7 linked regions of the Homo sapiens genome follow. The protein of the gene in region 6 purifies or fractionates together with the protein of the main gene of each other region. This does not show direct contact. Each region holds a gene or a part of one and is shown on either strand. Other genes may lie near its edges. The genes, in order: PKP1, VSIG8, EIF1AX, HEPHL1, MAPK13, TFG and NT5DC2.

What was found.
Region 1: the proteins of TFG (region 6) and PKP1 purify together in Homo sapiens (affinity purification with mass spectrometry; 2 studies listed by BioGRID and IntAct, with this or other methods). This does not show direct contact.
Region 2: the proteins of TFG (region 6) and VSIG8 purify together in Homo sapiens (affinity purification with mass spectrometry; 3 studies listed by BioGRID and IntAct, with this or other methods). This does not show direct contact.
Region 3: the proteins of TFG (region 6) and EIF1AX purify together in Homo sapiens (affinity purification with mass spectrometry, with the first as the bait; one large-scale study listed by BioGRID). This does not show direct contact.
Region 4: the proteins of TFG (region 6) and HEPHL1 purify together in Homo sapiens (affinity purification with mass spectrometry; 3 studies listed by BioGRID and IntAct, with this or other methods). This does not show direct contact.
Region 5: the proteins of TFG (region 6) and MAPK13 purify together in Homo sapiens (co-immunoprecipitation; one large-scale study listed by IntAct). This does not show direct contact.
Region 7: the proteins of TFG (region 6) and NT5DC2 fractionate together in Homo sapiens (co-fractionation; one large-scale study listed by BioGRID). This does not show direct contact.

The regions. Positions count from the first base shown.
Region 1 is NC_000001.11:201,290,006-201,293,505, reverse strand, and holds part of PKP1 (plakophilin-1), read right to left. Parts: intron 1-3,500. UniProt on the Homo sapiens protein: A component of desmosome cell-cell junctions which are required for positive regulation of cellular adhesion.
Region 2 is NC_000001.11:159,859,858-159,864,157, forward strand, and holds the start of VSIG8 (V-set and immunoglobulin domain-containing protein 8 precursor), read right to left. Parts: upstream 2,801-4,300; 5' UTR 2,665-2,800; coding exon 2,616-2,664; exon of another isoform or gene 789-2,615; intron 1-788.
Region 3 is NC_000023.11:20,124,839-20,128,338, forward strand, and holds part of EIF1AX (eukaryotic translation initiation factor 1A, X-chromosomal), read right to left. Parts: intron 3,474-3,500; coding exon 3,468-3,473; 3' UTR 1-3,467. UniProt on the Homo sapiens protein: Component of the 43S pre-initiation complex (43S PIC), which binds to the mRNA cap-proximal region, scans mRNA 5'-untranslated region, and locates the initiation codon. This protein enhances formation of the cap-proximal complex.
Region 4 is NC_000011.10:94,108,354-94,111,530, reverse strand, and holds part of HEPHL1 (ferroxidase HEPHL1 precursor), read right to left. Parts: intron 629-3,177; coding exon 466-628; intron 1-465. UniProt on the Homo sapiens protein: Is a copper-binding glycoprotein with ferroxidase activity. It oxidizes Fe(2+) to Fe(3+) without releasing radical oxygen species. May be involved in the regulation of intracellular iron content.
Region 5 is NC_000006.12:36,137,013-36,140,512, reverse strand, and holds part of MAPK13 (mitogen-activated protein kinase 13), read right to left. Parts: intron 2,149-3,500; coding exon 2,069-2,148; intron 1,812-2,068; coding exon 1,733-1,811; intron 1,635-1,732; coding exon 1,458-1,634; intron 1,220-1,457; coding exon 1,140-1,219; 3' UTR 1-1,139. UniProt on the Homo sapiens protein: Serine/threonine kinase which acts as an essential component of the MAP kinase signal transduction pathway.
Region 6 is NC_000003.12:100,729,994-100,733,493, reverse strand, and holds part of TFG (protein TFG), read right to left. Parts: intron 987-3,500; coding exon 822-986; intron 1-821. UniProt on the Homo sapiens protein: Plays a role in the normal dynamic function of the endoplasmic reticulum (ER) and its associated microtubules. Required for secretory cargo traffic from the endoplasmic reticulum to the Golgi apparatus.
Region 7 is NC_000003.12:52,527,373-52,530,857, forward strand, and holds part of NT5DC2 (5'-nucleotidase domain-containing protein 2), read right to left. Parts: intron 1,963-3,485; coding exon 1,778-1,962; intron 1,564-1,777; coding exon 1,489-1,563; intron 1,321-1,488; coding exon 1,265-1,320; intron 1,168-1,264; coding exon 1,074-1,167; intron 940-1,073; coding exon 811-939; intron 702-810; coding exon 641-701; intron 560-640; coding exon 457-559; intron 347-456; coding exon 245-346; intron 4-244; coding exon 1-3. UniProt on the Homo sapiens protein: Promotes dephosphorylation of tyrosine 3-monooxygenase TH which decreases TH catalytic activity and leads to reduced synthesis of catecholamines including dopamine, noradrenaline and adrenaline.

The sequences.
Region 1 (3,500 bases), on a different chromosome or scaffold from region 6:
GAGATTGATTCAGGACAGGACTCTGGATTCAAATCTCAGCCCAGCCCCTACCAGTGACCAAACTTCCTCCCATTCTTTCACCTCTAACATGCTCTGGCTGGTGAAGGGGGAGCGGCGATCAACCTCAAAGGCCCAGTGAGGATTAATTAATGTTTTCGGAGTGCTTGGAGACCCACAAATGACAGGCTCCGCAGGAGGACAGAGTGTCATTAGGGTTATTAGTGGCAAAGTGGCTTTGCATCACAGAAAACAGAACTGGATTTGGGGCTCCTAGTGGGGCCACCCCCCTCATCTCCCTTTCACTGGCCAGCAGGGACACCCTAAGGGATAGCATCAACTCTGCACAAGCTGGTCTGTTCACTGTCCTGCTGTCCTTGAAATATGGCCAATGGTGACAGGCTCACCACTTTACTCACATCTCCCTCCATGCCAAACCTGCCTTCCCTCCTTGGCCACTACCTTCTAATCTTGCTCATCTTTTGAAGCCAAGCTCAAGACCTCACCCACTCCAGGAAGCCCTTTCTGATCAGTTCTGCACAAGGCAATCTCTCCTGCCTCTAAACACATACTGTCCTGCTCTTGGTAGCCCAAGTCTCATTCTGCCCTGCGTCCCATTCCCTCAGCTATACTGGGAGCTCCACGAAGAGCAAGCCATGGCTCCGTGGCCTGGCCCACACTCTTGTTAAGTGATGGCCTTGGGGGATGAAGGTGAGTGGGATCCAGTGAGAGCCTCCTAAGAGGGATATGCACTCCTTTTCTCTAAAGCGATGGTCAGACTCCCCCATCGGAAACCCTGTCTGTGGGGAAGAGAGTTGGGCAGTGATCTCACCCAGCCAAGGTAGCTCCTCCCCATCTGCCACACCCACTTAGGCTCCCCGGCCATTGCCTGGGGGAGCAGGGCTGGAATATCTGAGCTGGGAGTAGAGGGAATAGCCAAGGGGCAGCTTTGGAATGAGGCAGGGATCCCCACCTCGTGCCACCTCCCCTGTCCAGCGCCAGGTCACCACCCATAGCCCACAGCAGAGAGTGCTGCCCAACTCTCTGCACCCTTCCATCATGGACATTAGGGGTCTCAAGCTGTGGCAGACACAGCTTGCCCTGGGGGCCTAGCGGTGTTGATATTTGTCCTGGTTCTGGCACCTGGGCAAGTCACTTGCTCTCTCTGAGCCTCAGTGTCCTCTTCTGTCAAAAGAGAGGGTTGGCCTCTTACCTCCCATAGGCCCCGTACAGTTCCACTGCCCTGTGGTGGTGTGATGATAGTGACACGTGCCTGACTGCGTTCAGAGGAGCCGACTCCTCCTCTCCAGAGACACAGCTCAGCTTACAAGGAAGAAGGGCAGACATCAAAGGCCACACTACCGCCTCGTTTGCCACCTGCCTCAGGGTCCTCTGAGAGGCCTCCCCTATACTCCAGGCCTAGCCCTGACTCCAGAAGGGCCATCCGCCTATGAGCAACATCCTGGGACTCTGCCATGTGGCCCATTGAACCTCTGGCTTCCTCCAAGCTCCCTGTAGAGTGCACACAGCTCTTCCTCCACCTTTCTCCAGCAACCGCTCCTCTGGCAAGACTGTCCTTATCAGGAAGAGGCTGGAGGCAATCTCATGGGCTCAGTCACTCAGGACTGGTGCTCCCAAGGAAGGGGGCTGCAGCCAGGCACACTCATAGTCAGGACCCTAGGTGGCCAACCACCAGGTCTTGTCTGCCTCCCTTCCACCCAGCCCACTTTGATCATTCTTCCAAGGTTTGATAGGATAGAGTTCATTTGGATCTGGCCCTGTGAGCAGGTATTTCTCACCAAAGGTCAGGTGTGGGTCAGTCAGCTGCTTCTGGGTGGAAAATTTGGGGTGGTGACAGACAGAACTTTATGGAGCACCGGGGAGGCCTCCTGCTATGAGAAGCAGCCCCGGGGGGCTTGCACCAGGGCCTTCTTGCCCGTCTTCTGGGAGAGAACCTGTCAGCATGATGCTGCTCTCCCCATGGGTCATCAGACTAACCATCTCCTCCCGCCACACCCTGCACCTGCCTGCCTCCCTCTCATACACTCTTCTCTGTATGAAGGTAGAGGCCTCTCTGCCATGGAGGTGGCAGTGGACACACAGACACATGGAGGGAGAGGCCAGAATGCCCTGCAGTTCCCAAAGCCAGTCCCCATGTCCAGCATGAACTCTGGTAAAGGCAGGTGTGACTGTCACTCACTTGTGGCCTGCAGGCCCTTCCAGGCAGTTCCTGAAGGCATCTCCTAAGACCTATCTGTAGTTGGGGTCTGCTTGGCTCTGGTGAGAATGAGGGTAACATCACACCTGCCTGCACTGCTAATCTGGCAGAAGGTGACAGTATTTGGGGCGGAGGTGGTGAGAGAGGGGAAAAGTCCATAGTTGTCACACACCTGAAATCACAGCTCGCAGTGTGCCAGATAACCAAGGAGTACTGGGGGCAGGTGTGCTCTGTCTGTAAGAGCACTGCTCCCACAACAAAAGTGATTTTCCCTCTCTTGACCCTGGGGTGTCTGACTGGTAAGTAATGCCCTCTAAAAGTCAAGTTCAATAGCAAGAGCATGGGCTTCTAATGAGTGTAATGGTGCTAGCTCACTCTTCCACTTGGTCCCCGATGTCTCTAGAATGCACTTCTAGGAAGCCTTTCCTGATGAATGACGCCTACTCCCATCTCCATCTCACGCCCGTACAAGTCTCCACCACCATGTACTTTGGACACTCTCTGAAGTGCGAACCATGTCTTTCTTTCCCTGGGACCTTGAGTTCAGGGCATTGCCCCAGCTGGGTCTGGGCCTGACTGGCTTGAGCTGGCTCTTTGCGTCAATGACCTCTTCTCCCTTGCCCAACCCTTGTGGTGAACGTGCTCTGATGCCTGGTGCTTAGAGGCTTAGAATGGGGTCAGGCTCTCCTCCCACTCAAAGAGGTCCCTGGTGAGTGGGGTAAACCAGGAAGAGAGGAGGGCTGCTGCAGCTCTCAAATACCCAAGGCCACCTCCTTGAGGAGGATTCTTAGTTCCTGGGGAATGGGGGAGGGGCTAGTTCCCAGCTCACCCCACAGAATCACTCCTACCCTCCAGCTAAGCATCTGCTTTGCCCCTCTTCTCCCCATATGGGTGCATGCAGCATGAGCAGGGATGTGGTGGCTTCTCGGTGACACTGACAGTGTGCCCAACCTGTGTGCCATCCTCAGGAAGCATCTGCCCACCCACAGAACCCCAAGGTCAAGGAGCAAGTGCCTCAGAGCATCTGCCACTTTCCCAGGTATACAAGCAACACAACCTGCTCTGTCCACATAGCTCGTCTGATTTTACATCCGCGTTTTAGGGTGTAAAACCATCTCAGAAAATCTACCGCTCAGGTCACCAGTGTCCTGGCACACTGCTTCCCTTTGGTGCCTTAGACAACGACAGGCTGATTCTTTCTTGTGTCATCGGTGCAACTCAAGCTTTCTCGCCTCAAAACCTTTGAAACTGGAGGCAGCTCCTTCTTTAGGATGAGTGGAAATCT
Region 2 (4,300 bases), on a different chromosome or scaffold from region 6:
GTGAGGAGCCAGGATCCCAGGACCCAGGAGCTCAGGACTGAGCTCTTGTCCCTCCCTACCCTGAAGCCCCAGGCAGGCCTATCCCCAACCGGTTGGACCTAGAGAGGGATAAGACCGGGGGGTGTAGCCAGGGCCCCACCCTGGACACTCTGCCCTCCACCTCCCAGTCTCCAGCAACCCTGCCTCTGCAGGCCCCTCACCAGGCCTCACACACTCTCCGTCTGCGTTCTTTTTTGAGTCAACATGTCTTCTGGAGTCACAGCCCCAGGTCTCAGCAATCATTCTGTTCTATCATGTGGCTCAGGACCATGTTTACACATAGAGATCTCACACATGCACACACACAATTACACCATCACAGGCAAACAAATCGGCACGTGGCCCACTCTTACAAGGCTTCAAAATGCAGATACATACCTATATGGCCCCACCTTCCTACAAACACAGACACTATATAGATTCATTCAGACACAGACACAATCTGCACACAAACACAGAACATATTAATTCAAAAGACACACCCACCGTGTGTTCATATAGTCCCTGTATGTGTTCATTCAAGACCAGACATATCTATGGAAGCCCTGCCAGGAAGGCTTAGCCTGGCTCCAGAGAGGCCAGCAAGGGCCCTTTCAACACCCTCAACAGCTCAGGGATCCCTGAACATCCCCCCTAGGAACACTGGCTGGGCCATCAGCTCTGTCATAACCCAGCTAGACTCCAAGGTGACCCAGAGCAGGCAGGCTGACTGCTGGGGCTCTAACGGGACCTAGTGATGCCTCTTCCAGCTCCAGGCCAAGAGAACAACAGCTCATTCCTGAGATAAGGATCCTGCTGCCATCTGCCAGATCCTGAGGCTGCTCAAGGCAAGCCAGGGATGAGCCAGAACTCGGCTGAGAGCAGAGGCTCCACCCTGGAGAAGCACCGCTGGAAGCACCCACACAGGAAGGACTCTCTCCATGCCATAGGAGCCTGCCAGGCAGGATGGTAAGCATTCAGGGAGAGGGGCTTGGGAAGGAGCGACAGGCTGCAAGAAAAGCACCTCCACCCTGCACCAGGCTGAGAGATTCTTCAATTGTCCCAGACCAGGGAGCCTCACCCAGCTTTTCTATCTCCTTAGAAGTCTTCTCAACCTCCTCCCAAGGGTTCCAGCCTTTCCGCACCCCTCCCTCTCCTTGGGAAGTTGCTCCTAATGTCTCACCTTGATTCCTCTTGCTGTAGCACTAAGGAAGTACTACAGGGAATGTGAGAGGAGAGGCTGGAGAGAGGGAAGAAAGGCAAAGTGGAAGAGAGAGCTGGATGGGAGACTTGAGGAGAGACAGGAATGGAGGAATCACATGGGCTCTCCAAGGAAGAGGACAGTGGTGATTCTTTGCCCCCCAAAAGCACCAGAAACTGGCCATGCTTTACGGGGTGTCATCTCAATAGTGGTGCCTACTCTCTGCTTGCAAATTCTTTCTGAATCTTCAAGGTGCTTCCAGAACTCCTGATCTTCCCTCTGGAGGTAAGGGAGGGGAGAAAAGGCGGCTCCAGCTGAGGGTATTGATGCGTTAATGCAGCCAGTGCTGAGTTGTCCTCACACACCCATTGACACACCACACAGGGGGAAGTCCGGGTCCCCACAGCACAGCTGGAGCCTCCCGAGTGGACTCTGCCAGCCCTGCTCTCATCAGACAGAGAAGGGCTGCAGCTATCCTGCCGGAAATGTCATCATTCCCATGCAGGTGCACGCACCCACACACTCACATACACATTCACGCTCACACAAAGGCTGAAAATGTCACCCCGCCTTCCCAAATTCCTCCTTCATGCCCCTTCATCCCAAATCCAGACTGCAAGAGGGACTCGGAGCCCTTTCCAGTGATGTTGGCATAGAATGCCCCTTGGTGGAACTTGCCCCAACCTGGGCAGGAAGCCACAATGTCCAAACTTGAGCCCTGCCCTGTGGACCTGTCCTGGTGGGGTGAGAAGTCTCTGGAGTTGCCATCCCCACCACCCTCAGGCCTCATCCTAGAGTGGGGCACTGCCCTGTCATAGCACAGGGGGCCCAAGGCTGAGGTCTCAGGCCTGAGCTGTCACTGGCCATGATGGAAGAAACCACTCAGACTTACACCAGACTTAGTCTCTTGCCCTTTCAAGGCAAGTGACTTCCCTGCCCCTTGGCCCTGGCCTTGGGAGAGAAGGAGTAGCGTTGGGAATAGCACACAGTCTGATGAAAATTGATCCTTCCCAAGCTCCTCCTGAGCCCTCACCCAATGCCCGTGCTTACCCCTCTCCTACCCCACCTCCAGCTCCTGCAGAGCAATCAATCCCTCTCCTCCTAGTCACGGCATGAGCTTGCAGGGCACCTGCACACATGTGTGAGCCCGACAGGGGACATATAAAGATCCACTCAAAGACCTCTGCACTACAGACACACACCCTGAACATCAGGCACAGGGTCTCCTGGGGAAAGGTCCCCTGGTAATACCCACACCCGGCTGCAGCAGGGCAAGGGTGGGCAGCACCCTGCCAGGCAACTCAGGCAGCCCCAGGCTCCACTGTGAGCCCTTGCTGCCCCTTTCCTTCCCACCTAGCCTCATGCTGGCTACCCTGCCCCCTGCCCAGCCCCGTACCTGGGCTCAGGCACACGAGTAGAAGGTGGAATGCTCCTCCAACTCTCATGTCTCTAGGCTCGGTGTTTCCTCCGTCTGGGCTGGGTATCCCGTGGGGTCGTAGTGGTGGGTGTGAGGGGGTAGGTGGAGGGAGGGGGAGCTGAGGGCCCAGACACTGCCTGGGGTGGCAGGAAGGTGCAATGAGTGCCCAGCTGGGGAGCAGCTGGAGTTATTTCTATGGGAGGGAGGGGGCCTGGTCCCCGCCTTGGGGAGGAGTCCCAGGAACCCTAATTAGCAGGGTGACAGGGTGGCCTACCTGGGCATTACCCAGCCCTCACCCAAGCTCTTCCCTGTCCTAAGAGTGGCACAGGACAGCCAGCGGGACTTGTAATTAGGCACCTGTTAAACTTCACTTCCTCCTGGCCACATCCTCAGGGTGACAACAGTCACCTCATTTACAGCTTCCAAGGGCTCCCCTCACCACTCATTTGCTGCCTCCTTCCCTGGGGGAAGTGGGGAAGAGGAAGGAGAAGCCAGGCTTGGGAGAAAGAGTGGCCAGGACCTGAAGAGTTAATCCTGATCCCAGGGCATAGGGTTCCCCAGGAGTGTCCAGCCCACCTTCCCCCAGGCTTCAGGCCTTTCAAAGGGACTCAGGCCTCCTGAGCTGAAAGAGGAGAGAAGGGGTGTGTGCAGGAACAGAGTCTCCTCCTGGCTGTCCCCTCTGGAACTGTCCTCCACACCCATACTCGACTCAAGGCCATCCCCAAGTGTAGGGGACCCCTGGGAGCAGGGGTGCTATGGGGGGTCCAGGGTGTGTGCTAGGAGTAAGGTGACTGATGGGCTAGTGAGGGAGTGTTGGAGAGAACAGCGCCAAGAGGACCAGGGAAGGGGGTGCCTGTGTAAGCGTGTGCACCCCTCAGCAATGTCTGTGGGAGGGAGGCAGGATGTCTGTGTCAGGGTGTCTCTGTGAGGATGGCTAAGCCCCTCTGAGTGAACTTCTTGAGGGATCGCTTGGTGTCCTGGCTTCTCTGCCCAGAAAGAGTAGCCAGGTCTTGAGGGTTAATGCAGTCCCAGTATTAACTGGGTCCTTGAGACCAAGGACCCTCATAACCTGGACTGGTCATCGGGCTGACTAAACCAGCACAGTTCTGGGTAAGTTCGTGCTGGGGTGGGGAGGGTCCTGGTAGGCATGGGGAGCAAGTGAAGGGCCACCCCTTGTTGGCTTGTCTAAGGGGGACAGAATGGGCATGTGCCTTGTTGGACTCCATGGTGGGAGTCAGGACATGAGTGACCCCATTCAATAGCTCAACTCCCTCAAAGGAGTCAGGGACTGCCCCCATCCCTACCATGGGGCACAGAAAGGGCAGAGGAGGAAGAGTGTTAGGGAGAGTTATGGGGCTCAGGGATGCTGCCAGGGCCCACCCCTCTGGGGAAAAATAAGTCAGAACATTAAGGAAACACAAGGAGTCCACGCGTCTCTGCATTCCAAGCCGTTGCACCTGAACTCCCAACAATAACAGGGCGCTCTGAGACCTACCAGATGTACACAATGAATATCTTTATTTCCTTATTTATTTTTAGGTTTATGGGATTGTCCTGCTCCCTTTGAAGAGCAGGGATCATTATCCCCATTTTACAGATGGGGAAACAGAGACCTGGAGAAACATGGGGATTCAGCCAATGCGGCTGGTGCCTAAGCTGGGATA
Region 3 (3,500 bases), on a different chromosome or scaffold from region 6:
TTGACATGAATGTACAAATATACATTCTACGTGTTCCTTCTATTGTACGAATCAAAGACTGCACGCAAAAGAAATGGGAAATACAGAATACAGAAGACATGCACCTTCTATCTTACATAGTACTGGATATCAAGTGAAAAGAGCAGACACTGATCTAAGTACATTACATGTATAAACATCTAAATTATCAATCCTCCCAACAATTCTGCATGACAGGTACTGTTTTCATCATCCCCATCTTAGAGGTGAAGAACCTGAAGCTGAGACAAGCAGGAGAATGTGCCAGTGGTCACCTGCAGGTAGAGGGCCAAGTAAGGGTGGGGGCAAAGGCCCTTTGACCCCAGGATCCATGCTCTCCCCTCTCCAGTACACTGCCTCACAAGTACCTAGCAACTTGCAGGGCTAGGAGGGGGGAATAAGAGAGGACAAAGTCCAATACATTCTCCAAATTGCTCAGTTCATTCTATACCTGAGAGTCTTGTGTCTTTTCACATTTTGCTCTTTTCTGAATAGGAAGAAAAAAAGCAAAGATAAAAAGGATGGTAGTTTAGGGTAAACCAAAAACACAAAGCAGTGTGCAAAAGTTCATGGGAGTCCAAAGAGTATAAATAAAACTTACCCTTACGAAGTAGAATAAAGATAAGCATTTCATACCAATACAAATCATTTTCATCTTTATGACAGTCAGGTAACATCAAAAAAACCTTGCTTTCATTCTGATACTTTAGCTGTCAATCCAGTCAATACCGGTTGTTGTTAAGTCTGTATACAAGTAAAGTATAAATCTAGCTATTTTACTCAAAACATGCTTTTACCTATTTGATTACTCAGAGTTACTCTGAAATCAATAATGACAGCAGTTTATACCTATGGAAGATGTTACTGAACATCATAATCTAATATTTACATTAGATGAGATTAAGTTAAATTACAAGTCACAAAGAGTTTGTAAGCAAACATTTATAGCCATGATTCCACAGATGTGGTGAGTAAACCAACAGCCATTCCTAAATAAAATACAAGAATTTCCATCATGCATAGTTTACAGGCTTGGTAAGAAGCGGTCTCTTTAGGGGCCAGATGCTTAAGAAATATTCAACAAACAATGAAATCTTGGCTTTTTTTTTTTTTTACACAAATGTTTGGTTATTTAGCCACACTAGTGATAAAACATATTCATATTCTAACTGCAAGTGGAATAAACATTGCAACAAAAATGCAACCCAATCAAAATCATTAGTAATAACTATTACTCCCTCTTAGCAGTAAGAACCATTATTCTTGGATTTCAAACATTTTATTTTCTGTGCATAGCTTATAGCACTGTATTATAGGAATCAGAGTGTATAAGCAAAAAAATGAAAAATAAAACTTCTTGGAGACCATTTCCATTATTTATGATTAAATCAATGAAACTATACAATTTCCACATTAAATACAAATTAGTAGAAGAATTCCTCCAAGTAGTATTGCATATAAGCTACAACTTTACCCCAACTATTTTAATCACTATGATTCGAGATTTCCTAGGATTTAACAGCCCAAGATTGGGCTGTTACTACCTCAGCAAGAACAATCACCAGTAAATACATGAACTGGGGTTATAGCTGAATTTTTAGAAACTCTCCAGACAAACCACGTGTTAGAGGAGGTAAGTAGAAAAACTAATGTTTGAGCTGTGCTATTCCTACCAGGAACTATATCAAATATGCAAAGTTCAAACATTCTTAGTAAAATAATATGAAAGGATCTATATATACTGTAAATTTAGCAAAAACACTTTTATGTACAGAAGCCTAAATATCTTAGGAGGTTTAGAATACCAATGAAGAGAATTGTTAATTCTTCAAGGCTGGTTTCTTATGAGGATTAAAAACCAGCCCTTAGTCTCAGATGCATTCCACCTAGATGTGTTCACGAACTCCATAGAATAAGAAATATAAACCATGAATACGTACTCTTAATTTCCATTCTTCAACTTAATGTTCTATAGTACTTCAGATTTTTAAATCCAGAGTTTGGTGTACACTTAGGAAATTATAGTAAGAGTAGATTAGAGAAGATTTGCTTGTTTTCCTTTTGAAGCCATGTGAAGGTTTATTACCCTGTGTATTTTCATCACTGAAAAGTTCCCCGGTGACTAATAAAATAAAAGTGTCACAAGCTACATGATGGATCTCTTCTTTTAATGTTGCATAGAGTTTCAGTTTGGCTAGTGAGGGCTAACTAGCTCAGCCCTAGTTTCATTTTATTAGAGTTGACCACTAAAAACTAAATAAGGAAGTTACCAGTAAAGCTAATTCCCAATACAAGCAAAAAACAAAAACAAAAAACAAAAACAAAACCATTCACATAATAAAATATATCCTTAACACAAAATAAGGGTATAACATATTCTGCAGCATGACATTTTATTTTATTTCTCAGCTGTAGCTTTTTCATTCAGAAACTGGAGACCATCTTTTCACTGAGTTGTTATTCCTTCCTCTTCCCTTAGCTTAGGGATATGTTGAAAAAGGCTTTTCAACAAGTATTTTATTTTTTACAAGTTGCTATGAAATTAAAATTTATATATATATCTTAAGTGTTTATAAAGCACTCAAAATTGTAGCTTACATGTATATGACTTCTGAAAATAAAAATCACACTTCTAACATAATCTTTCTGCTCTGCAAAAATATTCTACATACATGCATATGATCAAAACAATCTTTTCATGTTTGGGGTATTTCTTACACATAGTAAAAGAAAAGTCAACAATTGTATCAGTACTTCCCCTGTTAAGATAACTGAGTGCCACCTAGTGTTCAATTTCTGCAACTACTAAGCTTACAAATTCAATACTGCTATTAAAACCCAGGTTCTGAAAACGGCATTTTGGAAATCTTTTTTTTTTTTTTTATGTTTACGGTGGCAAAATACGACTATGAAAAGAACATGATATCAAAATCAGTATAAAAATAGCCACAGGCTACTTAAATATGACAAACAGACTTATTTTTTTTCTTCAACTGCAGACTTCTGCCTCCCTCAAATTGTATCAAAATCTCAAGGGAATATCTAGGTAACTGGAATATACACAATGACTCTATACAATCAAGAGGCCAGGGCTTAATCAGATTCCGTGAGGACAAGGCAAATGATTTCTTCAAAACACCCATTTTCTTACTGGAAGTGGTAGGAAAAGCAGCAATGCATGGTTTTTTTTTTTTTTTGTAATTAGTAGACATGGTCTTCTACCCATAAGCTCCATTACATTAAAAGAACAAAGTGGGCTTAACATCTCACTTAAGATAATTCAGCATTATTATCAGTTTTAAAAAAACCAAAAATATCTTAGAAACAAATCAGTCTGCTTTAACAAATTGCATTCATGCTAATGAAATTTTAATCTTCTTTGTCATGATCAAAATCCAAATTGTAGGACAATCTTCAGAAAAGATGGAATGTAAAATGTTGAGTTCAATTTAGATCTGGAAGGGAAAAGAACATCAGATGAA
Region 4 (3,177 bases), on a different chromosome or scaffold from region 6:
AAAGAAAACAAGTTCATTGTTTTATTAACAACAGAAGGGGATTCTTTTCATGACACTAGTCATTTCATTTCACCAGCGAGGACTTATCCCATCAGTATCTGCCAATCATTTCTGGATTCTTACTGTGCTACTTCATTCCCATGTACATGCTTTCCTGCCCCAGCTGTCTTTCCCACTTCTGCTCACCCACTGAGTCTATCTGGAGCATCATGGCCTCTGTGAAACTTTGGCTCATATCCTCCAACTGTTACCCATTCACTCCTACTGCTGCTATTAAGCCCTGTACTCTGCATTCTGCTACGGCACATAGCATACTTGATTATAGTTACATATTTACATATATGTCTCTCTTACTTGACTCTGAGCTTGTTGAGGGCTATATCTGGGTTTTTGTCATGCCTCCTGTTTTGGGGGTCTACAGGAAGCTCGGTGCCATCATCTGGCATCACTGACAGACAACCGTACCTATGTTACGAAGGACCGTGTAGGTTGTCTCCATGCCAGCATGGATGTGGTCAGACACATGACAGTGTAGCAGCCATGTCCCTGGGTGATCTGCAAACAGTTCAATGGTTTGGAATGTCCCAGGAAAGAGATCATACACATCTTCTCGGTAAGATTTATCTATCTGCAAAAACGTTTTAAAAAACAACAGCTAGTAGCCTTCTTTGCTCAGAACAGCAAGAACAGAAAGAAGAGCAAAAACAAATAAAACCCACAGTAAGCAAAAGGAAGGACATAAGAAAGAGCAGGAATCAAGAATAGAAGTACAATAGAGATAAGTCAAAGAAATCTAAAACTGATTCTTTGAACAGATCAATAAAATCAATAAATTCTGTAGTAGCCAGCTTCCATGATGGCCCACAATGATCCCCACCTCCTGGTATTCATAACCTTTGTGGTTCCTACCTACATTGTATAAGGGTTGGTATGCGAAATCAATAGCATGTGGAAGAAGTGCTGGCATTCCAATTCCAAGATTAGGTTATCATTACTTCTGTGTTAGATACTCTGTCACCCTCTTCTCTTGGATTACTCACTGGAGGAAGCCAGTTTTCATGTCTTATCCACATGATCAGGAGCTGAACCCTCTAGTTAACAACCATATCAGTAAGTTTGGAAGTGGATCCTCCAGCTCCAGTCAAACCTTTGAAAACTGCAGCTCCAGTCGACATCTTGATTGCCTCCTCATGAAAGATTCTGAATCAACCAACTAGTTAAACTAATCCCAAATTCCTGATCCAAGAATTACTCTAAGTTTAGAGTAATTTGTTATGCAGCAATAGATAACTAATACAAATCTCTGGACAGACTAACCAAGGGAAAAGGGAAAAGGACACATTAAAAATACTGAGAATGAAAGTGAGGACATCACTAAAATCTTACAAATATTAAAAAGGAAATACTGGACAAACACCTCTTATCCAAAAATTGTACAACTTAGATGGTATGAACAAATCCCTTAAAAGACACAAACTCCTGAAGATTACTCAAGAATACATTGATAACCTGGATAGCACTATATCTATTAAAGAAACTGTAATTGCTTCAAGATATTCCAACAAATTAAACTCCAGATGGCTTTATTGGCAAATTCTACCAAACATTTAATGGAGAAATAATACCAATTGTAAACAAACTGTTCTGGAAAATAGAAGAGGAAAGAACAGTTCCAACTCATTTTATGAGGCCAGCATTACTGTGATACCAAAACTAAACAAATGCTTTGTGAGGAAAAAAAGCTACAATCAATACTCCTCATGAACATAGATACCATCATCCATAACAAAATACTAGCAAATCAATTCCACAAAAAGGAATAATACATCATGACCAAGTAAGGTTTATCCTGGGAATGAAAAAGTGTTTAAAAACTCCACAATCAATAAATGTAATTCAGCAACAGATTAAAGAAGAAAAAGCATCTGATCATCTCAATAGATGCAGAAAAACCATTTGATAGAATTTAACATTTGTTGATGATCAAAACTCTGAGCAAATTTAGAAGGAAATTTCCTCAACCTCATAATGGGATCCACAAAAAAGCTGCAGCTAACTTTATATTCAAAGGTGAATGACTAAATGCTCCCCTTGTAAGATTAAGAACAAACTGAGGATGTCCACTTTCACCACTCATATTCAAAATTGCACTACAGGTCCTAGCCATTGCAGTAAGACAAAAGAAATAAAAGACATACAGATTGAAAATAAATGAAGCCATGTCTATTCACAGACAACATGATTGTCTGCATAGAAAATCCCCCTAAAATCTATAGGAAAACTATTGGAACTAAAGTGAGTTTAGCAAAGATGCAGGATGCAAGGTCAACATGCAAATATCAATTATATTTCTAAATATTGGCAATAAACAACTATAAATCAAAATAAAAACACTATCATTTACACTATTACCAAAGCCTTTTATATACTTAGTTATAAATAAATAAAACAAAGTATATGCAAGATCTCTATATTGAAAACTACAAAATGCTGATGAAAGAAATCAAAGAAGAGCTAAACGATAGATATACCATGTTCATGGATTGGAAGCCTCAATATTGTTATGTCAGTTCTGTCCAACCCATTGTATAGCTTCAGTGCAATACCAATCAAAATCCCAACAGGATTTTAAAAATCAAAATCAACAAATTATTTCTAAAATTTATCTGGGAAGGCAAACATCTAGAATAGCTAAAACAATCACCATCTGATTTTGAGACTTACTATAATACTAAAGTAATCAAAACATTGTGGCATTCAAGAAAGGGCAGAGTATAAACCAGTGTAACAGAAGAGACCGCCCAGACATAGACCCACATATATGTGGTCAATATGATTTTCACAAAAGTAAAGAGTCAATTCTGTGGGAAAAAAAGATGATCTTTTCAATGAGTGGTGATGGAACATTTGGACATATATATGAAAAAAAAATGAACCTTATTTCATATCTTGAACCACATATGAAAATTAAAATGTATCAGAGCCCTAAATCTAAAACTATACCACTTCTAAAAGAAAACAGAGACCTTTTTTGGGACCTTCAGTAAGGCCAAAATTTTTTATACATGACACCAAAAGTATGATCTATAAAAGAGAAAAAAGAAAAATTGTACTTCATTTTACTTCATCAAAAATTAAGAACTTCTATTTGAAAGCTGTTAAGAGAATGAAAAGATA
Region 5 (3,500 bases), on a different chromosome or scaffold from region 6:
AATCTGCATTTTAACAAGTCCCCTGGTGCACAAGGAAATTTGAGACCCACTGTGCCCGACAGCTTGTGCACATGGAAATTTGTTCTGCCAAAGTTTCTCAGATAAAAACAGAGAGGTTCTAGCCACTGTCAGGTCAAAGCTCTGGAGAGCTGTGCCATCTCCCAAAGGGAGCAGAACGGTTTGCCATCAAGCCAGGCAAGAGCCCATTTCTGCCTGTGCAGCTCGCAGTCTCCGAGCCTGCTGTTGTTTCATATCTTGATTGCTTATCACTCACCCAAAATAACCTGAATGCAATCGCACCAGCTGCAGCTCTCTCTGCAACTCCCTTAATTTAGCAGCCAAACACATTGGGTTCCTTCACAGAGCACAAGGCCTCAGCACGGGGCCCAGGAAGGGGCCCCTCCCTCCCAGCTGTCTGTAGTGAGTTGAATCATTTCCCCCTGGAATTCATGTCCACCTGGAACCTGAGAATGTGACTTTATTTGGAACTAGAGTATTTGCAGGTTTAATTAATAAGGATCAAGATAAGATCACACAGGATTAGGGTGGGCCCTAAATCCAATGACTGTTGTTAAAAGAGGAGAGAACAGAAGAGACAGAGACTGGAGTGATGCAGCAATAAGCTGGGGAATGCCACGGACTGCCCACTGCCGCCACAAGCTAAAAAGAGCCAAGGAAGGATTCTTCCCCAGAGCCTTCAAAGGGACCACAGCCCTGCCAACACCTCCATCCCAGATTTCCAGCCTCCAGAACTGTAAGGGAATCAAGTTCTGCTGTTTCAATCCACCAGGTTTGTGGTAATTCGTTAGAGCATCCCTAGGAAACCAACACAGCATCACTGCCATAGGCCCCCGGCCTGGCTCAGCGCCCACTCAGCCCCACTCTGGCGGGAAGGAAAGGGCCCCACCTGCAGGCGATTCTCCAGATGGGCAGTTTAACGTGGCCTGTTAGGATCAGAGCTAGTTTCTCCCAACCGACATCTTTGAATTCTGCATCTACTAGGCCCATTTCCCACATAAGGAGAAGGACCCTTCTGTCCTCTGCTTGAAAGGCTGTATTCCAAGAAGGGCTGAGTTTGGTAGTGACAAATACTGGTCCTTGGGCAGTGTCTGGCCGGCGGTGCCATGCAAGATGAGTCCCTACAGCTTCATGCCACTCCGGCGCCGTGAGTCCTTCCGGGCAATGGGGCTGAAGTTCACAATCTCCTTGTAGATGTGCTCTGAGAAAGGCAGCATGGTTTAAGGTGCGTAAAGAGGTGCTGTGGCGAGAAAGTCCACCCCCCTTCAGAGACAGCATGGAGAGCGAAGTCAGCTCAAGGAGAAAGAAGCACCCAGGAGACAATGCCCACCAAGAAGGAGGTGGCAGGTAGGGCTGGCAGAGGCCAGGCACAAAGATGGAGGAAGCAAGGAAGAGAGGCTGCAGGCGGAGGCGAGGAAGCCCGAGGCCCCAGCTCTTACGCTTCCATTCATCCACTGTGAGTTTCTCGTGTTCTAAGGAATCATCAAACGGCTGCTGGGCCTCCGTCTCTTCCTCAGGGTCCCGGAAGGGTTCAAAGAAGGGATGGGTGAGGGCCTGCGCGGCCGTCAGGCGCTTGTCCACGTCTAGCTCCAGCATCTTCTCCAGCAGGTCCGCAGCTGCAGGGGCAGAGCCAAGAGCCTCACACCAGGGGCTGGGAGAGCCCGCCCTCTGGGATACGCTGAGAGGCCCCTGGGGAGCGGGCTCTGAGACTCACCCTGGGGGCTGGCCCGTGGGAACAGCTGAGTGAAATCCTTCCTGGGGGTCTGTGGCAGGGACTGGATGTAGGATTTGGCCTGGAAGACAGAAAAGCATCAAACCCCTTAGGGCTCTGGCCTCAGCGTGTAGAGCAGGGATTTCAGAAAAGCCTCAGAGCAGGGCTGAAAGTTCAGGTCAGGGTCCACGGTGAGATTAAGACAAGAGTGCCTGCCAGGGTAGGAGGATGCTGTGGGAAGGTGCTGGTGAGCCTTCTTCCACAAAGGCCTGCAGCCCACTGGGCCCACGTCAGGCAAGCACACAGCCCAGGCCAGCCTAGGTCCCATTTACCACCCACCGCTTTGTCGTTCAGCTTCTGCACAAACTCCGTGCCAGGCACCCCGGTCACTTTCAGGATCTGGGTCAGCTGGTCCAGGTCTTGGTGGCAGGTTAAGGCTTAGCCTTGCTCTCCTGGTGGGTCTGAGACTGCCCTTCCTGCGACCCCACCATCACTTCACCCGGGCACCATGGCAACTGATCATCCAGGCTCCAGCCCTGCCTAACCACCTCCTGCTCTCAGGAGGAGGCTTATTCTTCAGGGCTCAGGGCTCTGGAGAGCTTTCCAACGTGCCAGGCTGAGGGGGGTCCCTACCCAACAAATGGATGTGGACTTCTCAGCCTTCATCCCAGTGACTCTTTTCTGTTTCCTCGTCTTCTCACCAAAGGCCTGCCCTGCACACACAGGTACTCAGTTAATGTGTGCCGTGCCAAAATGTATTTTCCACGTAGTGGTAGAATTTTTCATCATTTTGCTTATCTACATTTTTTTTTTTTTTTTTTTTTTGAGACAGGGTCTCACTCTGTCACTCAGGCTGGAGTGCAGTGGCACAGTCTTGGCTCACTGCAACCTCCACCTCCTGGGTTCAAGCGATTTTCCTGCCTCAGCCTCCCGAGTAGCTGGGATTACAGGCGTGAACCACACCCGGCTAATTTTTGTATTTTTTGGTAGAGATGGGGTTTGACCACGTTGGCCAGGCTGGTCTCGAACTCCTAATCTCAGGTGATCCGCCTGCCATGGCCTCCCAAAGTGCTGGGATTATAGGTGTGAGCCACCATGCCCACCCAACATTTTGTTTTTTTTTTTTTTTTTTTTGAGTTAGGGTCTCCCTCTGTCACCCAGGCTGGAGTACAGTGGCACAATCATAGCTCACTGCAGCCTCAACCTCCCAGGCTCAACCCTCCCACCTCAGCCTCTCAAGTAGCTGGGATTTTTCTTTTTCTTTTTTTTGAGACAGAGTCTTGCTCTGTCACCCAGGCTGGAGTGCAGTGGCGCGATCTCAGCTCACTGCAAGCTCCACCTCCTGGGTTCACGCCATTCTCCTGCCTCAGCCTCCTGAGTAGCTGGGACTACAGGCGCCTGCCACCACGCCTGGCTAATTTTTTGTATTTTTAGTAGATACGGGGTTTCCCCTTGTTAGCCAGGATGGTCTCGATCTCCTGACCTCATGATCTGCCCGCCTCAGCCTCCCAGAGTGCTGGGATTACAGACATGAGCCACTGCGCCAGGCCCATGTCTGGCTAATTTAAAAAACTTTTTTAGAGATGGGGTCTCCCTATGTTGCCACATCTGGTCTCAAACTCCTGGGCTCAAAGGATCCTTCCACCTCAGCCTCCCAAAGTGCTGGGATTACAGGCATGAACCACTGCGTCCAGCCTTATCTGCATTTACAAATTATTCTACAGGGAGTATGTATCACTCTCACATTAAGAAAAAAAAGACAGTTATTTAA
Region 6 (3,500 bases):
CAATTAAAGGAAAATATAGACTTAATGAATGTAAAATAAAGAATCTCAACAGAAAAACAGAAACTATAAAAACCCAATGGAAATTCTAGAGCTGAAAGCACAATTAAACAATTCACTAGAAAGGTTCCACAGCATATTAGAAATCACAGCGACCTTGAAGAGTTCAACAGAAATCACCCAACCTGAAGAACAGAGAGAAGACTGAAGAAAAATGAACCTTAATGACCCATGAGACAGTATCAAGCTCTCCAATGTATGTGTTATTAGAATCCGAAAAGAGAAAAAGCAGGAAAAAATAATGAAGAAATTATAACCAAAAGTTAAACAGAATAAAACAATATAGGTACTGCTTTAAGGTTAAAAACTTATTTATATAAAAACCCACTGTATACTCAAGCAATTTAACAAGAAAATCTACATTTAATTTTCAATTTCTCTAAGATGAGGAGATAAGACAAATCAAATATAATTCGAATACTGCAACTAATCAAATTATAAAATAGTTCAGATTTTTAAAAACTTTCTAAATTTTACTTTCAAAAATTTACTTGAACCCAACAGTGCTTATTCTTTAAGGGGGAGGGTGCTACTCTTGGGGAGAGGACATAAGAAAGCTTTCTGAAGTGCTGGAAATCATCTACATCTTAATCTAGTTAGTCTTTTACATAAGTGTACACATATGTAAAAATTTGTTAAGCAGAACCCTTAAGATTTGTGCACTTCACCATATCCAAGTTATTCTTCAATTAAAGAAAGAAGGAAAGGGAAGAACGGAAAGATGAAGGAAACGAAGGGTGTAAAGGAGTTGGAAACCAACTTACCTGAAACCTGATCATCTGTTAAGCCAAACGCTGACATAACATTTTTATTGATTTCATCTTGGTTTTTTAAAGGATCAAAAGCAGACATACTTGCTGCCATAACCTGAGTAGACTGTTTTCCAGAAGAATCAGAAGCAGACTTTTCTTCCCTACCATCCACAGTATCTGTAAAAATAGAGGAATAAACAAAAACTTGTTTCCTTTTTATCTATATTCAGTAAGGCCTAAAAGTACAAGGGAAATAATGCAGGTGTATAATGATAGTCTGGAATGTTAAGCATGTCGGAATATAGGATTACAGATCATTTTAATTCCTTTATTTTTTTTATATTTTTCCTTCTAGTAACAGGGAGAAGAGGGCAAAAAGAAACAGAAGATGAACAAAAGCTTTCCAAAAAAATTATTTACCTCCTTTTGTAAGAAACATTAGATGAAAAAAATACAAGCTCCTTGATAAAGAGAAACATTTTACTTTTTTTGGTTTTTTTGGAGCCCAATAACCTATATCCTAGTATCAGATACCCACTGGGCACTCTGGAAATAATAATTATAGGAACTAAGGCTTTATTTTATAAAAAGAAACTGAACTAAGGTTATAATCTCAAATTTTACATTTTATTTCTACTGTCTACTGGTCCACTATTAAATTACATGGAAATCAAGCCAACCATAATTAATTCATAATCTTCCATAAATAGCACATTAAAAACATTTTTGAATTTGCTACCTTCTATTTTAATATGTATTACTTATTAAAATACTTATTAAAATGCTTACAGATGAAATGATGTATATGGGATCTGCATCAAAATAATACAGGAGGGGAGCCGGGTGCAACAGCTCATGCCTGTAATTCCAGCACTTTGAGAGGCCGAGGTGGGTAGATCACTTGAGGTCAGGAGCTCGAGACCAGCCTGGCAAAACCCAATCTCTACCAAAAATACAAAAATTAGCTAGGCACAGTGATGCATGCCTGTAATCCCAGCTACTCAGGAGGCTGAGTCACGAGAATCACTTGAACCCAGGAGGCAAAGTTTGTAGTGAGCTGAGATTGTACTCCACTCTGGGTAACAGGAGGGGCGGAAATGTGTATAGTGTAATTATATGATACTATAAGTTGGTAACTGTTGAAACTGGATGTGGGTTTCTGGGATTCATTATAATGTCTACTTTCTTATATACTTAAACTTTTCTATAATAAAATGTTTAAAACAACAACAGAAAAACAAAATGTCAAATATTATGAGCAGGTTAAATTTAAAATCATGCTTTTCTTCTCAGGATACTAAGATATTCCACAGGCATTTATACTACTGTCTTGTGAAAGAAAAAGAGTTCAAGAATTTTAACATACATTTTACAAATAGGAATCCAAGTCCAAGATACAAAAGACATCAAAAGAAACAAACAAAAAACACGAACAAGTAAACAAAAAGACTGTTGCTAACCATTTACTCAATTAAGGGACAATGATTATCACTTTTGTTACCAAGCAAGTAAATGAACATCAGTTCTTAGATCACCCCTGTAATCAATACAAAATGTATCTTCTGAAAAAAATGTTAAGTGCTAAACCGAATATAAGTACCCACAGCACACACTGGCTGGCAGCTCATTCATTCCTAACATACCATTCCAGGCTACCCTAATATTTTCTAAATGTTTGGAAAAAGAAAACTACTACTAGAAGTATTCCTTTAAAACATGTCTACCAGTTATCTATCTTCCCTACCAACTTCCTTCCTCTAATCCCAAGAGCATACCACGTCAGTCTTACAAGTTGTTTCCCCTCACATCTCACTACCTATGCCTCTTTTCACTTATCACAAACTAAAACCATCAGGAAACATACTATACGTCCTACTACTTGCTCCATTAGCTGCTGGAGATACTGCAACAGGTCAATCTTCTATCTAAGGTAGTTTACACATCATTTGCCTCTTAAAGGAAAACAAGCATCCAAGAACCGCTGTAATAGAGAGCTGAAGACCACAGGTGGCCACATTTCTTGGTGAGGGTAAGCCACAGGTTCTAAATAGCACTGATAGCTGATTGGCAATTTCATTTTGTGGACTAGATTTCAGTTTCTGATGTATGGTTTTCTTGTTGTTTTTGTTTTCTAAAAAAATAAGAACTATCTCTAAAAATATAATGCAGATTGTATTATTCTTATATCATCTTATCATCAGATATGTCAGACAGGACACAATAACTAGAAAATGGCCATACAAGAAAACAACATATGGCATGATTTCCAAAATGCAGAGAAGAAACCAATTTTAACACCTTTTACATTAACATAGGTAAAAAGCTAACAGTATGTATAAAAAATATAGACACAAAGAATAAAGTATAAACAGTAGCAAGAAAGAGGTGAGGAAAAAGTTTCACCTAAAGCAAAAAACTCATAAATCCATTCCTTAGAGTAGAATGTGGGCCACTGTAGCTAATTTCTGAACAGTATTGGCTATACTGGTTAAATTCTCATCTACACTTCTTAATATTCTGCAGATGGTTAAATCCCCTGAAATTATATGCAAATGTTGTGTCAGCATCTATGAATTCTTCTGGAAAAATTGTCTAACTTTTTCATTGATTCTTGATCTAAAATTGGAAATTTTTGTTTGGAGAGGTAGGGCTCAGAATAGGCAACCTTCTTTGACCTGAAATATAAAAGGT
Region 7 (3,485 bases), about 48 Mb from region 6:
GGCCTGGGGTGCAGGTAAAGGGCATGACTTCCAGTCTGTGGCTGGGCCACGGGCCGGGCAACCCCCATCCCTCCTCCGTAAAGGCCCACCTGCTCAAGTGGACCCATGCCAGCAAGGGGGTGTTCTCACCCCAAGCACATTGGGCAGTGGGCAAGGGCCAGGTTGGCCTCCTGCTTCAGTCCCCTCATTGGGGTGGGGCCTCTATTCCCCTTCCCTGGCCCTGCAACCCCCACCATGCCCATACTTGCGCCGGTCAGTGAAGAAGCTGGGCTTGTCTGCCTGGACAATGACCACATCGAAGAGCTGGCGCCAATCGGGACCCACCATGTGCCGCATCCCCTTGTCTCTGTGTGGAGGAGTTTCAGGTGGCAAGTAGTCTGAGGGCGGCTCCGTGCCTGCCCTCCCCACCCAGAGCCCTGGCCCTGCTGTCCCTCCATCCACAGGGGCTGGACTCACACGAAGCTGAAAGGACTGTTGGTGATGAGGAACAGCTGTTTCCCATGGGCCACCAGGCGGCTCAGGACAGCAAACGTCTCATCCCCTCTCAGGATGTACTTCTCTAATGGGGCAGATGAGTCTGTGAGGGTCAGTCCTGCCACCTGCTCAGGCCGGCCACGGCAGGGCTTCTGTCCACACTTACCCATGTCCTGCTCGATCCACTGGTACATGAGGCCCTTCACATGCACGTCTCGGATGGCGTCCTGGGGGCAGTGGAGGACAATGAGGGTACAGCAGGGCCCAGGTGGGGCTGTCCCACTGTGGCTGGACTTAGTCTTTCCTGCCATCCGAGGGCAGGCCCAGCATCCTCACCGTCACGTCCTTGTAGAGATGTGCTTGGTCAAACTCCAGGCTGTGGCCCAGAAAGTAGTCCACCACACAGGACAGCAGAGCCATCTCCGGTAGCGAGAAGATGTCCATGAACTGCTTAATGGAGGGACCCTGGGGAGGGGGCCATTGTCTCAGACACCCTTTGGGACCCCAACCCCTTCAGTGCTGGAGACGAGGGCCCCAAATCTGCCTTGGGACATGGGCACATGTCCATGGGGCAGGCTGGCTGCTGGGGTATGGAGTACCTTGCCATAGAAGCCACTCATCTGGTATAGTGGGATGTGCTGGGTACCCCCATACAGCTCAATCACCTCCTCGTCTGGCACAGGCTGGAGGCCCCTGAGCAGGCCCAAGATACCATCAGTCCAAGGTAGTCCTGAGCCAGAACAGCAGTGTAGGGTGGGGCGGGGGTGGGGTTGGGGCAGAGCCGACTGACCTGTAGGCTGTCCCCAGCTGCACGTAGTGGAAGGCGTCAATCTTCATCAGAAGGCTCTGGGGGCGCCAGGGAGGCAGGACGGATGGTGAGGAGGCAGTTTCACCGTGGCCCCAAGCCAGCCTCTTTCAGCCCATGCCAGAACCCCAGCTGGATGGGACGGAGGGGTAATGACCATACCAAGAGGAGGCCAAGGAGGGAGCCCCTATACAGGTCCAGCCACTCACCTTCTGAATGTCATAGTGGAGGCCACGGATGGCAAAGCTGGGGTTGTAGTCATACTTCCGAATCCCTTCTGGGTACTGCCGGGGGAAAGGGGCCAGGCCTAAGCCAATAGCCCTGCCAGACCTGCTGGCTGGGTGGCCACCCCAGGGGGTCAATCCAGCCACCTGCCCAGGGCAGCTGCCAGGCAAGAGGGCCAGGGGAGCCCCACGACTCAGCCCTGAGCTTAGGCCAAGGTGGGTCTGGCCAGCCTCCAAGCCCTGGGTTTGTTGGTGGCAAGGACCCCCGTCTCACCTTGTAGTGCTCGATCAGGATGTCACGGGCGGTACTGAAGATCTCGGGGTGCAGTGCGTCTGCATACTGGGCCAGGGTGTAGTCGTAGTCAAAGCCGTAGACCTCAACGTCACGCAGGCTGATCTCGTTGTTGGCGTAGATGGCTGCTGGGTTCAGGAGACTGCAGACCTCGGGGGGCAGGAGGTCTAGAGGAAGGAGATGCAGGGAGGCAGTGATGGGGATGATGATCCCTGCAGCAGCTATGGCTCCTGAGCACTCTGTGGGGACCTAGCCCTGTGAGCCTCAGAAACGCCCCACAATGGCACCTCTTATTCCAGTGCTGGAGATGGTCAAACAGGCCCAGAGAGAAGTCACTTGCCCAGGGTCACGCAGTTAGGGTAAGGCAGAGCCCCTGGCTGGAGCTCCTCCTCATGGTTACACCTGCCTACATTACACTATCTCCTATAGCCCACCAGGTATACTGAGCCCGTGACTACTCCAGGCCCTCACCACTAAGCCCCATCAGACACAAGGCCATGCTAGAACCCTGGCAGCAGTCACTCAACTCCTCACCGCCTAGCCCCAGAACAGCTGCTTTTGGGATGCTCTACAAAGCAAAGCCTCCCACTTGCTCAAAACCCGTGCAGGAACACCACTGTCTGGCCCCCCACAATTCAGCGCCTCCTCTGCTCCTCTCAGCTGCCCTGCCCTGCCCCCTGGCCTCATCTCTCAGCCTCCCTGGGATTATGTGTGAGGATACCATGTGGGCACTGAGGACTCCAACCCAGAGGGGCTGGCTCTGTATGGCCAGACTAGGGGGTTGAGGCCATGGATGCTGACTTTTCTACCTTGCCCAGAGCTGGGACTGGGGCTCAGGAACATTAGTGGGAGGGGGAGCCCCTCTGCCGATCGGGCTGCCAGCTCTGTGCACTTCCCACAGCCCAGGGAGAGTGAGGCCCCTCTAATCAGATTTCAGCTGCCCGCAAGCCCATATAATGACATTTGCTGGCTCTAGCCAGGGAACATTGCTAATTACGACAGTCAGGACGTGATGTCAGGTTCTGGGCCATTATCCAGGTTGCTCCTTCTGGGGATGTGGTCGTGGCCACCCCAAGTCCCTGGCTGCTCCCAGGAGGCTGCAGTTGGCTTTGAGGCCCACAGCAGGGTGCTGAGCAGAGCACTGTGTGGCATGGGCTCTGGGGTCCCAAGGAGGCAGATGGGGCTGAGAGGCCCCATGTTACCTGCCCTGGTTTCCCTATGTGTACAATGGAGAAAGTGGAAGGGAAAGGAAAGGGAAGGAGATGTGCTAGGAAGGCCACATGCAATGAGGTCAGCCAGACAAGACCAGGCCCTCCCTCTCATGGCTATGACTTCAGGAATGTCACCTCACCTCTTGGGCCTGTTTCCTAGTTTCTAAAAGGGTACAAAAAATTGTACCAAGTGGGGCATGGTGGCACACACCTACAGTCCCTGCTACTCAGGAGGCTGAGGCGAGAGGATTGCTTGAAACCCAGTAGTTCAAGACTGGTCTAAGCCATATAGCGATACCCTGTCTCTGTGAAAACATTTTTAAAAAGAAAAAAAAAATTGTACCAACCTACAGAATTACTAAGACTGTCATATGGAAGGTGCTGCTCTGTGCAGCAATCTCACTCTGCACCTGCACATATGCAGGATTAAATGGGTGATATGTTTCCTGAGCCTATGAGCATCCTGTCCCCAATTTCCC